Linked DNA regions of Homo sapiens. The protein of the gene in region 1 purifies or fractionates together with the protein of each later gene. This does not show direct contact. Each region holds a gene or a part of one and is shown on either strand. Other genes may lie near its edges.

Evidence for each region.
Region 2: the proteins of TEX35 (region 1) and PLCD1 purify together in Homo sapiens (affinity purification with mass spectrometry; 3 studies listed by BioGRID and IntAct, with this or other methods). This does not show direct contact.
Region 3: the proteins of TEX35 (region 1) and LYG2 purify together in Homo sapiens (affinity purification with mass spectrometry; 3 studies listed by BioGRID and IntAct, with this or other methods). This does not show direct contact.
Region 4: the proteins of TEX35 (region 1) and GOLGB1 purify together in Homo sapiens (affinity purification with mass spectrometry; 3 studies listed by BioGRID and IntAct, with this or other methods). This does not show direct contact.
Region 5: the proteins of TEX35 (region 1) and PADI3 purify together in Homo sapiens (affinity purification with mass spectrometry; 2 studies listed by BioGRID and IntAct, with this or other methods). This does not show direct contact.

The regions. Positions count from the first base shown.
Region 1 is NC_000001.11:178,519,521-178,523,164, reverse strand, and holds the end of TEX35 (testis-expressed protein 35), read right to left. Parts: intron 2,794-3,644; coding exon 2,729-2,793; intron 2,493-2,728; coding exon 2,291-2,492; intron 1,944-2,290; coding exon 1,901-1,943; intron 1,494-1,900; coding exon of another isoform or gene 1,441-1,493; exon of another isoform or gene 1,353-1,440; intron 841-1,352; coding exon 725-840; 3' UTR 515-724; downstream 1-514.
Region 2 is NC_000003.12:38,009,758-38,012,724, forward strand, and holds part of PLCD1 (1-phosphatidylinositol 4,5-bisphosphate phosphodiesterase delta-1), read right to left. Parts: intron 1,917-2,967; coding exon 1,787-1,916; intron 1,689-1,786; coding exon 1,457-1,688; intron 806-1,456; coding exon 604-805; intron 519-603; coding exon 374-518; exon of another isoform or gene 297-373; coding exon 147-296; intron 55-146; coding exon 1-54. UniProt on the Homo sapiens protein: The production of the second messenger molecules diacylglycerol (DAG) and inositol 1,4,5-trisphosphate (IP3) is mediated by activated phosphatidylinositol-specific phospholipase C enzymes. Essential for trophoblast and placental development.
Region 3 is NC_000002.12:99,245,563-99,249,206, forward strand, and holds part of LYG2 (lysozyme g-like protein 2 precursor), read right to left. Parts: intron 1,259-3,644; coding exon 1,118-1,258; intron 1-1,117. UniProt on the Homo sapiens protein: May act as a potent antibacterial protein that may play a role in the innate immunity.
Region 4 is NC_000003.12:121,743,232-121,746,875, reverse strand, and holds part of GOLGB1 (golgin subfamily B member 1), read left to right. Parts: intron 1-3,644. UniProt on the Homo sapiens protein: May participate in forming intercisternal cross-bridges of the Golgi complex.
Region 5 is NC_000001.11:17,279,958-17,282,419, forward strand, and holds part of PADI3 (protein-arginine deiminase type-3), read left to right. Parts: intron 1-392; coding exon 393-472; intron 473-713; coding exon 714-839; intron 840-2,462. UniProt on the Homo sapiens protein: Catalyzes the deimination of arginine residues of proteins.

The DNA.
Region 1 (3,644 bases):
CAATTGAGTTCTATTCAGCCATAAAAAGAATGAACTCCTGTCGTTTGCAACAATGTGGATGGAACTGGAAATCATTATGTTTAGTGAAATAAGCCGGGCACAGAAAGACAAACATCGCATGTTCTCACTTATTTGTGGGATCTAAAAATGAAAACAATGAAACTCATGGATATAGAGTAGAAGGATGGTTACCAGAGGCTGGGAAGGGTAGTCAGGGGCTTGGGGGCCGGTAGGGATGGTTAAGGGGTACAAAAAATAGAATAAATTAGACCTACCATTTGATAGCACAACAGGGTGACTACAGTCAATAACTGTACATTTTCAAATAACTTAGAGCGTAACTGGATTGTTTGCAACTCAAAGATAAATGCTTGAAGGGATGGATACCCCATTCTCCATGGCATGCTTATTTCACCTTGCATAACTTTGTCAAAACATCTCATGTACCCCATAAATATATACACCTACTATGAACCCACAAAATTAACCATAATAATAAAATTCCAAAAAAAAAGAACTTGGCCAATTATTTATTAGATGGTAGAAGCAGCCAGCTTAGCAAAGAGATGAAACAAGGAGGAACTGGTGTGAAATAAAATATGAAATCCCATCATTCCTCGTCCTTCAAATTGAAGCCAAAGAATCACACCCAGGGCAGGACAGTTTCTGAAACACTGTTTGCTCTGTATCTTCTTTACTCTCATTTCAAGCTGGCAGTTAAGCTTCACCTTCCCTCAGTCTGGGACTTTGGGGCAGGCACAGCGTGGCCCACAGAAGGTTGGGTGGTCACTGGCTCCTCTCCACCTTTGTAAAGGCCTGAGGCCTCTGAAGGAATGTTCCCTTTGGGGGTGGAGGGAGGGAGAGGAAACCTTCAAGGGGGTGAGAAGGGTGGATCCCCAGAACCCAAGAAAGCTACCCAGTTCCTATGAGCAGCAGGGACCTGAGTCCTGCTTGGTGACAAGACCTCAGAGGGGTGTGGTGCAGGCAGAACTCGAGGCTGAGGGGTTCCCTGCATCACCCAAGACACCCTGGCCCCATGCACAGGTGGAGGCTGATTATGTGGAGGGAGCGGATGGGCCAGGCAGCAGGGTCTCTCCTGAGACCACACAGACTGGCGTCCGCTATCATCAGGGGCCCTCCCCATGCTATGACCTGGGACGTTTGCAGACCCAGGTGGAATGGAGGGAGGTGGTGGTTGGGAGGACCCTAAGATGACTAAGATGTAATTTCCCACCAATCCATCAGGAAGCAGGGGGAAGGGTTGGAGTCTGAAATACACTGATATAGAACCAAAAATAATCAACCTCCACACACTCAAGTTTTGGACTGGTACTCAAAACCATGACATCCCCTTTGGCTTTGAATGAAGGTTTTTAATCTCCAGTGGAGGCCTGGGGTTGGGGTGGTATTTAACAGGACAAGAAGCCCTGACTGTGCATCTTAAGGAGCTTGGAGGTGATGAATCGGAACTGCTGGTAGGTTCTGCAGCTGCGCTAGGTTGGAAACACATATTCGATGTCACCGGGGTTGAGGTACAGATAAATCAGAAGGCAGCTCCAGAAGCCAAGGGTGAAAAGGGTGCCCAGACCTGGTGTGAATATTTCCCACTGGATGGGGAGAAAGGGCAGGACCTGAGGCAAGGTCAGTTCCGCCACTAGTGGTGCACCCTCCCCACCATGGGAGCCCCAGGCAGCAGCCTCTAGGCTGGGTGACCCAAGTCCTCCTTCCTGGTGCCACATCCTGTATGACTGAGCATGCTGGGTGGCAGCATCTGCTAACAGTCCCTACTCCTGGCACAACCTCAGGAGGGGTGTGATGTGAATGCGGCTGGGAGCACATGGCCTTGGGGACAACAAGGCACCTGATCGAGAAAAGGCACATCTTGTATGAATCTACCTACCCCGATTGTAGTTGTTCTTTAGAGCACACAACAAACATTTCTCCTGCAGAGGACAGAAACGGCACAAGAAAGATCAATTTCCCCTGGTCCAAGAAGGGCAGCCTGCTAGGCACCTTATCTGCCCTTGCTAAAGGGAAGGACAGAATAAGAGGGTGGAGCTGGCGGGTAGGCCCATCCAGGGTCAAGTCCTGCATGGTCACAGCTAAGGAGGCTCCACAGGCCTAGAAGGCAAGGCAGGTCAGGGAGGGCGCAGGCTCGGGCGGCACCCAGAAGTCAGCAGCGGGCGGACCTGTCCCTTCACTATGATACAGCACAAGCTCGGGGAAGTCACCAGGGAGCCGGAGCCAGGGGTCTGGCACCAGTGCTGGGCTCGGGCAGGGTTTCACTTACGCAGCAGGTCCCACAGTGATGAAGGGGATCCAGTGAGCCCTGTTTTGTTTTTTGTGGTGCCATCGTCTTCTTGTGAAGAGCACAGGGTGCTCCATTGACTCCACTGGCTCCATCCATTTTCTTGGGCCTGAGCTGTGGTTCTCTGTGAGTCTTTCCCATCAGCCTGAGTTCCTGCTGCTCCTTTGGTGCTCTTCTAAGGGGACTGGGGGAGGAGGGCCAGGGAGGGGCAGAGAGTTGGGGAGACATTTTGCAGCATGACAAGGAGATAACCAGTACACGGGTGGCCATGGAAGGCCTTGACTCCAAGTCACAGGGGCAGTAGGAGCAAAGACAACTCCTCCAAGAGTCTGGGTGTCCTCTGAACCCCAAAGGGATCCAACAAAGGGAAGGGAGGAGACCCTTTAGGGATGAGGAGAGACGAGTGCAGGTTACACTTACAGCTTATAGTTCTTCTGTGTATTTATTAAAATGTCCATCTTCTCATCCATATCTTTCTGCATTTCCTTCGAGAGAGAATTCAGAACTAGCATCTTCATTTTGAAGGACTTTGGAAATACCTTCCTCCTGCCTCTCTGCAAACCATTCTGCATCTTACTTCCTCAAGAATCCTCGCTAGACTTGGGTGAGGTGGCTTTTGGAGTGTCCGTGACATGTACAGCTTCTCCCCTTCCTCATCCCCCTTCCCCAATGAGACGAAAGCACAGGCAGAGACATTAGGGGACTTTTCTGAAGTCTCTAGGTGAGCCAGAGGCCAGCTACTGTTTTATCTGATCTCACACTTTGGATAAAACCAATGCTTGCCTTGGTTTGATGCCTATAAAATGATGGAACCAAGAAGACCAATCTTGTGACCCCAAAGACAATTTGACTGCAATGTTTTGACCCTTGGCATGCACCCAGATCCTGCATATTTATGTTTGCTTCATCTTTTACCTAATTCCTGGCAAAGATGGTCAACAAAAAGTAAAATGACAGCAGCTAAAGGGATACATCACACGTATTATTCGCTCAGAACAGAAGGAATAATAAAATCTTGACAAAGTTTTGATCTATAAAATGTGACCTGGGTAAATTGAATGGAAATAGTGGACATGAGAAAAATTCTAAGATGGTAGAAGCTATAACTGACAATATTTGTCACAGAGAAAAACAGGTTTGGGTTGTCATAAAACAGAAATAAAAACAATTTATTCCAATAAAATAATTTTCATTAAAAATGAAAGATTTGGTAACAGTTTAATTGATGTACTATAGAAAATTGATCAAGAAATTACACCATCTGCATAGAGATGATTTCATAAAATACCTTCTTGAAAAGCATTTTTAAATGTTAGTACAAATTTGAATAAAATAT
Region 2 (2,967 bases), on another chromosome or scaffold:
GGGCAGGAGCCCCCCGAGCTTCTTCCCCTTCAGCAGGATCTTCCCCTTCAGTTGCTAGGTGGGGAGGGGCAACTGGTCAAGACACACCTAGCGCCCCGGCTAGGCTCCCCACCCTCCCCCAGGGATCCCCCATCCCCACCACACACCTCAGGGGAGGGCAGGCTGTTGGTGACCCCATCCAGTGGTCGGTTCAACAGCATGGGGCCCAGGATGGCATGCAGGTGCCGCGCCATCACGCGCTGCTGCTCCAGTGTGCAGTGGTTCTCCAGGGATAGGATGACAGGGTAGGGGGACGCCTGGAGGCCCAAGGGCACATTAGGAGTGGTGGGCCACCCCTAGCATCCCACTCCTCACCTGCCAGGGGCACTCCCACCTTGAAGGCATAGTCCCGGATGGCCCTGAGCACATCGCAGAAGAGGATCTTGGAAGTGAAAGTATAGCCGTGGTAGATGATTGGTTCCTGGTTGGGCCCGTCCCAGCAGTCAAGCTCCAGGCATCGGCAGCCTTTGCACAGTGCCCTGCGGGGAGGGTGGTGGCTAGGACCCTCCAGGTCCTGTCCCGGGTCCCACCCAGACTCCCGACCCAAGGCTCCCTGAGCAGCACCGGATGTAGGCTTCAGTGCTGCTGGGCCCGGCTAGCTGGTCCTCCAGCAGGTAGGTGTTGTGTGAAGAGGACACCAGGTAGTGGCTAAGTGGCTGGCCCATGTCCTGGTAGACACGGCGGTGTGCCAGGCTGAAGGCGCTGCCGTCAGCCGACAGTAAGTACATGAGGAAGCCGTCCTTGGTCATCTGCCGCTGCGCCTTGGCTGGGAGGGAGGAGGCCACTGCCCGTCAGAGCCAGCCTCCAGCAGGCGCTCCTGGCTGCCCACCCATCTGGACAGAGGAGCCCTCTGAACCCGCTTGCCTGCCTGTCCTGAGCCAGTCTTCCAGAGCTCTTGGAATTAGGATAAGTCTGAGGCTCTCGACCAGACTGTGGCTACTCCAGAGTGGGGCCCTGTCTCCTCCTCCTCCCCTGTCTGCACACTCTAAGACCCCTGAGGACAGGGTGTCATCTCCCCGTTCTCTGTACCTCCAGACTGGAGCCCCCTCCAGGGCAGGGACCCATCTTCTCTGCTCTATCACATCTCAAAGCTGGGCCAAGAATGAGTAAAAAAAAAAGAAGCAGGAGTAGCATCTGCTTTTCAGCCATCTCTCTTGTTTCTTGAAGAAGGGGTCCTCAAAGCCCCCTGAAGGAGGTGCCAAGAGGGAAACAGGACCAGAGAAGGGTAGGGATGCCAGAGCCCTGTCTCTCATCTGCCGGCTTTCATAGGACCAGAAAGTGTGGAGCAGGGCCCCGGGGCTGGCTGAGGCAGCCCCTTCCCTCCGGTTCCCTTCTTTCTGGCTGCAGTCTCCCCAGGGGTCTCCCAGCCCAGTGCGGCCCTGCGACTGCAGGTAGCAGGCCCTGGTCAGGCTCTCACCAGTCTCGCTGGGCTCGTAGCGCTCAATGAGGGAGAGGGCCAGCGCAGGCCCTGCCGCCTCCTCCCGCTGCTGGTGCTGCAGGAACGTCACTAACTGATCCACCGACAGAGTCTCCCCTGAGCCCGCGGCCTCGGCGAAGGTGCGGTCGATCTCCACCCGCTGGGTCAGCATCTTGTAGAAGGCCTCAATCTCCTCGTCCTCCAGGGAGTCTGTCTGGGAGTGGTCACACTCCTGCAGAGCCAGGACAGCCGAGTGGGCTCAGAGCAGGCCTTGGGCCGGGGTCAAGGGCCCCATGGACAGGCAGCCCCAGCCCCCACTTCCTGCCTCACCCTGAAGATCTTCCGGGCATAGCTGTCGTCCACCTGGATGTTGAGCTCCTTCAGGAAGTTCTGCAGCTCCTTGAAGCTCATCTTGTTGTCCTTGTTTTTGTCAGCTTTTCGCAAGCAGGAGTGAATCCAGCTGGGCAAGAAGTAAGGAAAGAACCCAGGAACCCTGGAACCTACCAAGGTCCCAGCCAGAGCCATGGATGGCTCCAGCTGAAGCCACCTATAGCCACAGCTCCCTGCAGGCCTGACTTACTACACATCCATGTTTCAGTGGCCTCTTCAGAGGAAAATGTTAAGGGGTCTTTTTCTATTTGCTGGTTTTCAAACCTTTCAAAATTTTTAAAACATTTCTTTTCTTACTACAAAAGGGCCCACTGTAGACAATTTAGAAAATGCAGAAAAGTAAACAATCAAACAAATCTCCCGTAGTCTATCACCTAGGGATAAATACTATCAACATTCCAAAGTATATCCTTCTGGTTTTCCTTTTCTTTTTTTTTTTTTTTTGACAAGATCTCACTCTGTCGCCCAGATTAGAGTGCAGTGGCACAATCACAGCTCATTGCAGCCTAGACCTCTCAGGCTCAAGTGATCCTCCCACTACAGGTGTGCACCGCACCACCACGCCTGGCTTTTTTTTTTTTTTTTGGGTAGAGACAGGGTCTCCCTATGTTGCCCAGGCTAGTCTCAAACTCCTAGGCCCAAGCAATCCTCCTGCTTTGACCTCCCAAAGTGCTGGGATTACAGATATGAGCCATCTGGACTGGTTTTCAACATATAATATATAATAATAAATATCCAACACTAAAGAAATGGATATTCCACCTGCTGAATAGCCTTCAGCACACGAATCTCGTGCTTGGCTGGACCATTCTAAACTTGACTTTTTTCACCTGGCTTTCTGTCATAATTATTCTTTTCCACATCTATACCCATATATATACAATTTGGAAAACATATATATGTTAGAATGAAGTTTTTTTTTTTTTTTTTGGAGACGGAGTCTTGCTCTGTTGCCCAGGCTAGAGTACACTGGCGCGATCTCGGCTCACTGCAACCTCTGCCCTCTGGATTCAAGCAATTCTCCTGCCCTAGCCTCCTGAGGAGCTGGGATTACAGGCGTATGCTACCATGCCCAGCTAATTTTTGTATTTTTAGTTGAGACGGGGTTTCAGCATGTTGGC
Region 3 (3,644 bases), on another chromosome or scaffold:
GAGGAGTTCGAAACCAGCCTGGGCATCATAGTGAGAGCCCATCTCTAATTAAAAAAAAAAAAAAAAAGAATTTAAAGTTAAAAAAAGAAAAGAAACTGTTTCTTCTACTTCAGAAGAAAACCATTTTTAAAAATTTGCTAAGTTAGCCACAGCCTCTGATCACTGCTAATGACTTGGGACAACCATTCTAAGACATCCTTTTGATCTCTGACTGCAGAAACAAACAGATCCACAACCCCCAACAGGTGTCGCTTCTGCTCTGTTTCTCCTTCAAATTGCTCATGCCTGTAATCCCAGCACTTTGGGAGGCCGAGGTGGACAGATCACTTGAGGTCAGGAGCTCAAGACTAGCCTGGCCAACATGGTGAAACCCCATCTCTACTAAAAATACAAAAATTAGCTGGACTTGGTGGCAGGCACCTGTAACCCCAGCTACTCAGGAGACTGAGGCAGGAGAATCGCTTGAACCTGGGAGGTGGAGATTGTAGTGAGCCGAGATCATGCCATCGCACTCCAGCCTGGGTGACAAAGCAAGACTCTGTCATACACACAAAAAAAATTCTGCCACACTAGTGCACTGGGAAGCCTGTTGTACTAGGAGTTAGCCAATGCATGTTTTAGCCTGGCTCCGCCACTAGTTGGTTCTGTTCTATTGGGAAGTATTCCCCTCCTTGCTGAGTCTTTGGGCTCTGATTTGTAAATTTGAGGGGTTGGGGTCTGATGTGACCTTGTGGTTGCTGCCAGCTCCGACACTCTAAAACCAGGATAACGTGATGAAGACGACTTTGGAACAGTATTGCTTCAAATGGTCATGTGTAACATGAAGCAAACACAGCAGCACCACCCAAAAAACAAAGCCAGAGTCTAATATTTATTCAAGCAGTAGTTTCAATACATGGAAATAAACACAGCTGGACAAAGTTTGGAAAGAATGGGGGTGGAAAATGAAAAGAAGCTGGTTGTTAGATTGGTCAGGATTGTGGTTTTTGCTCATTTTTAATTTTGATACTATTGTCATAATGATGATTATACCTTTTCAAAATTAAGTGACTTCCTAAGAAAGAATCTGAAAACGATGAAAGGGGGAAGCCAGTCATTTGCTCTGCTTTTCACTTACCGCAGTTCATCACACTGTTTGCATCACAAGTGGCCCCAGAGGTCTTCATGGTCATGATGTCCCCATAGCAGCCGTGGTACAGGCGTGGATGTAGGTGAGGCTTCATTGAGTGACTGAAGGGGTATGAGCCCCTGGAAGTGCCTAGGAGGCAGAAGTGTAACTCACATGAATCCTCTGAGAAGATATTACTTGGGTTGCTGCAATAAACATCACTAAACCAAAGGCAGAAGGCCACAGACAGAACTCCCCAACTCTCTTGTTGCCATTATTTGTTCCTCAGACAGAAGTTCCCCATGCCCACTCTGCTCCGATCTTTTGTTTTGTTTTGTATTAACACAGGACGTAATCTGAAAACTCTATGCAAAATATTATGAAATTCATCTCTTATAGATCCTAAATACATGTGCAGTCTTTTTTTTTCCTTTTTTTAAGAGACAAGGTCTTGCTCTGTTGTCCAGGCTGGAGTGCAGTGGCATGATCATAGCTCGCTGCAGGCACCAACACCTGGGCTCAAACTATCCTCCCACCCCAGCCTCCTGAGTAGCTGGAACCACAGGTGCATATCACCAGGACTGGCTTATTTTCTCTTTTTGTAGAGATGGGGTTTTGCTATGTTGCCCAAGCTAGTCTCAAACTCCTGTGCTCAAGCGATCCTCTCTCCTTGGCCTCCCAAAGTGCTGGGATTACAGGCACTGTAGTCATACCATGCTCTATGTCAGAATTAAAACTGACAGGTTTTTAAGCAGGAAACTTGAGAGTTTTTTTTTTTTTTTTAAGATTCAGGGGGTACATGTGCAGGTTTGTTACGTGGGCATATTGTGTGATGCTGAGGATTGGCCTTCTATTGATCCTTCACCCAAATAGTGAACACAGTACCTGATGTGTAGTTTTCAACCCTTGCCTCCCTACCTTCCTCCCTCCCTCCTTCCTTTTACAGTCCCCAGTGTCTATTGTTTTGAGAGGAATTTTAAAACATTTCTGACACAAATGCCTCTGGAGATGTGAACATCTAGATTAACAATTTGCCTTTCTTAAGCCAAAATTGACAAATGGGGTCTAATTAAACTAAAGAGCTTCTGCACAGCAAAAGAAACTACCATCAGAGTGAACAGGCAACCTACAAAATGGGAGAAAATTTTCGCAACCTACTCATCTGACAAAGGGCTAATATCCAGAATCTACAATGAACTCAAACAAATTTACAAGAAAAAAACAAACAACCCCATCAAAAAGTGGGCGAAGTACATGAACAGACACTTCTCAAAAGAAGACATTTATGCAGCCAAAAAACACATGAAAAAATGCTCACCATCACTGGCTATCAGAAAAATGCAAATCAAAACCACAATGAGATACCATCTCACACCAGTTAGAATGGCAATCATTAAAAAGTCAGGCAACAACAGGTGCTGGAGAGGATGTGGAGAAATAGGAACACTTTTACACTGTTGGTGGGACTGTAAACTAGTTCAACCATTGTGGAAGTCAGTGTGGCGATTCCTCAGGGATCTAGAACTAGAAATACCATTTGACCCTGCCATCCCATTACTGGGTATATACCCAAAGGACTATAAATCATGCTGCTATAAAGACACATGCACACGTATGTTTATTGCGGCACTATTCACAATAGCAAAAACTTGGAACCAACCCAAATGTCCAACAATGATAGACTGGATTAAGAAAATGTGGCACATATACACCATGGAATACTATGCAGCCATAAAAAATGATGACTTCATGTCCTTTGTAGGGACATGGATGAAATTGGAAATCATCATTCTCAGTAAACTATCACCAAGGACAAAAAACCAAACACCACATGTTCTCACTCATAGGTGGGAATTGAACAATGAGAACACATGGACACAGGAAGGGGAACATCACACTCTGGGGACTGTTGTGGGGTGGAGGGAGGGGGGAGGGATAGCATTAGGAGATATACCTAATGCTAAATGACGAGTTAATGGGTGCAGCACACCAGCATGGCACATGTATACATATGTAACTAACCTGCACATTGTGCACATGTACCCTAAAACTTAAAGTATAATAATAATAAAATAAAATAAAATAAAATAAAAATAAATAAATAAAATTCAAAAAAAACCAATTTGCCTTTGTTTAGAAAGATAAGAAAGAAGGGCACCATAACAATTTAAATATATTCTTATTATATATCATTTACTGTGAAGTTGAGTTCCTATGTATATTTAATAAAATTAGAAGTAAAAATTGAATTTGCCAAAATAATTTAAGTCAAATCTATTCTTGTCTTTTTGTTCTGTCATTAAAAAGTGAATTTCTGTCCAAGTCTACCTGTTACAGGAGAGGCAGAGCTTTTGCTAAAGGAGATACAAAGTTATTTTCTGTAATGTTGAAAAGTTTGTTCTAACGGTTTCAAGGACTGTTAACTTGTACCTTAAGAGTCCAAATATTTGTTATAAGACAGTACTTAGGGCTGGATGTTGTGGCTTATGCCTAGAATCCCAGCACTTTGAGAGGCTGAGGCAGGACGATTGCTTGA
Region 4 (3,644 bases), on another chromosome or scaffold:
ATTACTTAACATCCCTCTGCCTTAGTTTACTCACCTTAAAACTGGGAATATTGACGGTACTCCCTCTTGCGGTTGTTTTAAGAATAAAGTGAGTTAGGCCGGGCGCAGTGGCTCATGCCTGTAATCCCAGCACTTTGGGAGGCCAAGGCGAGTGGATCACTTGGAGTCAGGAGTTTGAGACCAGCCTGGCCAACATGGTGAAACCCCTGTCTCTACTAAAAATACCAAAAATTAGCCAGTCGTGGCAGCGGGTACCAGTAATCCCAGCTACTGGGGAGGCTCAGGCAGGAGAATCGCTTGAACCCAGGAGGCAGAGATTGTAGTGAGATCGCGCCACTGCACTCCATCCTGGGCGACAATAGTGAAACTCCGTCTCAAAATAAATAACATTAAATAAATAAATAAATAAATAAATAAATAAAGTGAGTTAAATAACGAAAAGTAAGTTATGTGTAAAGATATTGGAGCAGTGTTTGGCAGGTCACGCTGTGTATGTATGTTATAGCTACCACTTACAAATTCATTTAATTAAAATAGTGGCTTCTGCATCATGAAAAATAGTTGTTCATTTTCTAATTGTAAAATTATGTCATAATATCGAATGTGTTATTTCCAGCTATACAGCACTACCCATTAGCCCCTCAACTTGGTTGAAAATCACTTTGAGATTTAAGGAATTAAGGACAGCTACTGAGGCTTAACTAAATAAGCATGAAATAAGTTTGAGGAGTCACCTCAACTGAAACCTAACCACCTTCTCTGTGTTTCTGTGGGAAAATGTGATTTAAATTCCAAAGTAGATGGCATATATGCATATATACACAGGCATGCACTCACTGTCTTCAGTTATTTTGCTTATTTTCCTGTGCATATTGTTCTGTTTTCGGTGGCTAGGGACATGCTTTATAATTCTTTTTATATTTTTATAGTTCCTAGCATAATGCTGAACACCAGGTGGTTGTTATAAGAATAATCATTGATAACAGTGAAGACTTGGAGAAAATAAAACTTACTTAATTCTGAGTGCCACTTCAACACATAAGTGTTAAGGTCCTGTGGCAGGGTTTGTGAAAGCTGTGACCAGCATAGACTGAGGAATTGTTTTATTTGCCTTAGTGTTTTATGGAATCCCTGGCCTTGGCATGAAGCTCTGTGTTTTATTCTTTTCCTTAGTTGCTATTCATTATTTTGGTGCCTTATAAAATAACAGCAAGAACATTGTCCAACAGTCATACATATTCCTTACATGAATTTATGACTATGAATATGACTATTCCCCTTTATTAATCTTTACATATATGTATACATATACATACACGTATACATATGTATATATATACATACACGTATACATATGTATATATACATACACGTGTACATATGTATATATACATACACGTGTACATATGTATATATACATACACGTGTACATATGTATATATACATACACGTGTACATATGTATATATACATACACGTGTACATATGTATATATACATACACGTGTACATATGTATATATACATACACGTGTACATATGTATATATACATACACGTGTACATATGTATATATACATACACGTATACATATGTATATATACATATACATACATAGATTTATGACTATGACTATGAATATTTTCCCCTTTATTAATTTTTATCTATACATTTGCCCATTTCTGTCCTCAGTGAGCCTAATAGAGGGGAGTACCCATCTTTCTTCATTTAGCTTAAGCATGGCTACTTACTGGCTTTCTTGCCCTGTAGTTCCCAACCTTTGAGCTACCAAAAGCCTACAACTGTGGGTGAGATGCCCTTCCATTTACATTTCCAGATTATTCCTTTAATGTCAACAGCTGTAGAGTAGGGGGCATTAGAATGGTCCTTGTTAGTCTTCATTTTAAGATGAGGAAACTGACGCTTTAAGGTGACTTACTCACTATGATGCAGCTTCTTATTGAGCCAGGACGGAAAACTCAGTTCCTTGGCTTCCAGTTTGGTGCTCTTCCCACTATGTCACCTGCTTTCCTGTGGATCTCTGAGACTGTTGAATCAATCTATGAGAGACTCCTTTTGTCCTGCCTGAACAGTACATCTCTAGCACTCTCTCAGATTTTTATCTCATTTAAATATTAGTCTTTCCTTTCTTAAAATGTACATATTTTTAAATGGTTATGTGAGAAAAGTAATCTATTTTTCCTTTAAATAGCTTTTTGTTTTATTCTATCAATCTTTTTAATTTTTTTTTTTTTTTTTTTGAGACAAGGTCTTGTTCTGTTGCCCAGGCTGGAGTGCAGTGGTGTGATCATAGCTGACTGCACTCTCAAACTCCTGGGCTCAAGTGATCCTCCTGCCTCAGCCTCCCGAATATCTGGGACTGCAGGCATATGCCAGTATGCCCAGCTAATTAAATTTTTTTTTTTTTTTTTTTTTTTGTAGAGACAGTCTCACTATGTTGCTCAGGCTGGTCTTGAACTCTTGAGCTCAAGCCATCCTCTCACCTCAGCCTTCTAAGGTGCTGGGATTACAGGCGTGAGCCACCCTGCCTGACTGCTATTGTATTATATATTTAACTGAGGGACCTTGAAATGTCTTAATTTCTGAGTGTCAGTTTCCCTCTATAAAATGGGGATGATGATAATACTTATCTTACAGATTTTGTTAAGATTAAAGAGTATATAAAGTGGTACAGTCACTTTGCATTTAAATTAAATGTTTCTCAATTGTTGCCATTAATATTATCATTATTATCCTGTGTTCATGTGTATGTGTTCCTCATTTGCTATGATATTCAATGATATTCAGTAGGATGCTGATGGGCACGCTCCTTTCTAGGGAGGGTCAATCAGAAACTCATGTGGTAGTGGTATGGGTTTCCATAATGGATTTCATAATAATTAATGATATTTGAATTACTAGAATAAATCCACTTGGTGATAATATTTTTCAGTATCTAGTCAGATTTAGTTTGCTAATATTTTATTTAATATTCTAATTAAAATTTATTAGAATGTTGTCATCAGTATTCATAGGGAGATGGTTTGTAATTTTTCATTTTCTTTTTCTATGTTTTGGAGCAATATAAACAGCAACTTCTGTAGCACTTAGATTATCTCATTTTTGACAATTTGGTAAAGTTTTCTAATAGCAACTATTTCTGGTGTTTTAGCATTGGTGACTTATTTTATAATTTTTCCATGGAAATATGTGTATTTATAATTTGTATTCCTAGAGGTATTAATTTTGATTAACTGTATTTTTTTTATTATACTTTAAGTTCTAGGGTACATGTGCACAACGTGCAGGTTTGTTACATAGGTATATATGTGCCATGTTGGTTTCCTGCACCCATCAACTCGTCATTTACATTAGGTATTTCTCCTAATGCTATCCCTTCCCCAGCCCCCAACCTCCAACAGGTCCCAGTGTGTTATGTTCCCTGCCCTGTGTCCAAGTGTTCTCATTGTTCAATTCCCACCTATGAGTGAGAACATGCGGTGTTTGATTTCTGTCCTTGTGATAGTTTGGCGAGAATGATGGTTTCCAGCTTCATCCATGTCCCTGCCAAGGACATTAACTCATCCTTTTTTATGGCTGCATAGTATTCCATGGTGTATATGTGCCACATTTTCTTAATCCAGTCTG
Region 5 (2,462 bases), about 160 Mb from region 1:
GAACCTATAAAACCTGACTGATGGTGGGTGGGTGGGCAGCAACTGACCCAGCTCCCCGCTAAGCCAAAGCAAGAGGATTCCTCATCCAGTGCCCTCGGGCAGTTGTACATTTCCAGTGACAGGCGTTACCACTTCCAGTGAACTCAAATAAAGGTCTCAGTTCATTCCACTGTGGCAACCAGACCCTCCCACTCCTTATACCCCAAGATGTGCACAGTGGCCAAGGCAAGCTCAGACAGGTGGAACCCACCCAAGGCCTGGGAAAGTCAGAGGCTGCTGACTCGGCAAGACCATTAGCTGTGAACTTGGCTCCTGCCTGTCTGCTTCCCTAAGCAGGTGGTCCTCACGTTGGTGCTGTCCCTGTCCTTCTCTTTCATCTCTCTCCTTCACAGATGATGAGCAGGTCAAGACCATCTCCATCAACCAGGTGCTCTCCAATAAAGACCTCATCAACTACAATAAGTTTGTGCAGGTACAAGGGCTGTGGTGTACCTGTGGGCTGTGATTTGGGAGTAGGCGGGGCTGGAGGCAAGGATGGGATACAGACATCTGAGGCTAACTGTTCATGAAAGCTCAGGTTAGAACAGGCCCAGACAGAGGGGTCCCAACACCCTCTTTTGACCCAGAAGAAGTGAGGGGAGCGACAGGATGCCTTGGTGCCCCCAAAACACACTGGCAAGGTGTCCCCAACTCTGGCCCTCCCCTGCCCCCAGAGCTGCATCGACTGGAACCGTGAGGTGCTGAAGCGGGAGCTGGGCCTGGCAGAGTGTGACATCATTGACATCCCACAGCTCTTCAAGACCGAGAGGAAAAAAGCAACGGCCTTCTTCCCTGACTTGGTGAGGGCACTACCCATGACTCCTTTGCCAAATCAGGCTGCAAACCTCTAAGCTCGAGAGAGGAAAAATGTCTGGTCACAGTCATATTTAGGATTGTGGTGGCCAGTGGGGGTGGCAGGGAGAATCAGGGGTCCTATGGTGCTCCTCAGAAGGGCTTCTAGCTGGCTGACCACCATGGTCCCTGTGGAATGCTTGCTGGCCAAGCCCTGGCCCAAGGGGCATCAGGGAAGGGGTCCACTTGACATTTGTGGAGTGAATGAATGATTGCATGAGGTCACGTGTGCAAAGCACATGGCATCAGCTGGGAACCCAGATGCTCATTCTGCTCTCTTCCTCCCAGCTTGTGGCTCTTCATCCATCCCACATGTATTTAGGGTGTCCTGTGGCAGATGCAGAGATGATTAAGAATGCCCCCTGCTCTCAAGGGACTTTCAGTCTAATCGGTTGAGAGGGAAACTCTTCCCTTCTCTGAGGACATGTCCCAGTGATCTATTTTGTAGGATAAGGCGATGTGGCAGTTTGGAGGTGAGACAAAGCACTTCCAGCCTAAGAGGTAGAACTGGAGATCCAGGAAGTCTTCATGGAAGAAGTGGCTTTTGACTGAGCCTTGAGGGCTTTGCCTCTGATGCTTGTAAATCTTTTTTTCTTTTTTTCTTTTTTTTTTTTTGAGACGGAGTCTCACTCTGTTGCCCAGGCTGGAGGGCAGTGGCACAATCTCACTCACTGCAACCTCAGCCTCCAGGGTTCAAGCGATTCTCCTGCCTCAGCCTCCTGAGTAGCTGGGATTGTGGGATTGCAGGCGTGCACCACCACGCCCGGCTAATTTCTGTATTTTTAGTAGAGATGGAGTTTTGCCATGTTGGCCAGGCTGGTCTTGAGCTCCTGACCTCCGGTGATCCACCAGCCTCGGCCTCCCAAAGTGCTGGGATTACAGGCGGAAGCCACCGTGCTTGGCCTGCTTCTAAATCTTGAGCTTGCCTTTGAAACACCTGGACAGGTGGGGCCCCACCCCAGCGGTCCTGATTCAGCAGGTCTAAAGCACGGCCCGAGGCACTGCTGCCGCGCTAACAAACACCCAGGTGGTGCTGATGCTGCCTTTTAGAGGAACACAGTTTGAGTAGCACTGCTATAGGTCACCCAGCTCCCCTCTCCACTCCTCCCCACCTCATCCCCTAAAAGAACTCAATTTGCCCATTGTCAGAGCCTTGTGGGGAACCTGTCCACACCACCATTGCTTCATGCCCCGCTTTTTCCTTCCTCTTTTCAGGCAACATTTTGCCCTCCGCTTGCAAAGCCTCTTTTCACTCCCCTTCCTTCCTGTTCGAGGCTATCTTGTAATTATATATGTGCCCCAAGAAGTTTGTGCAATGATTCAGGTTCTTGTGTTCGCAAGAGACAGAGTCCTACTGAAGCCAGCTTCAGCCAGAGGGAGTCTTAATATAAGGACACCAGAAACCTGAGGGCAGGATAGCTGCAGCAGAGCCTGGAACCCTCTCTGTTTCTGTGTCTACATCATTCATTCTCTCTCTTTCTCTCACCCTCTCCACCTCCTACTTCTTCTCCCTCTTCTTCCAGCTTGGCTTCCTTTGCTTCTCTGTTCCTGGGGACAAAGATGAGTATGGC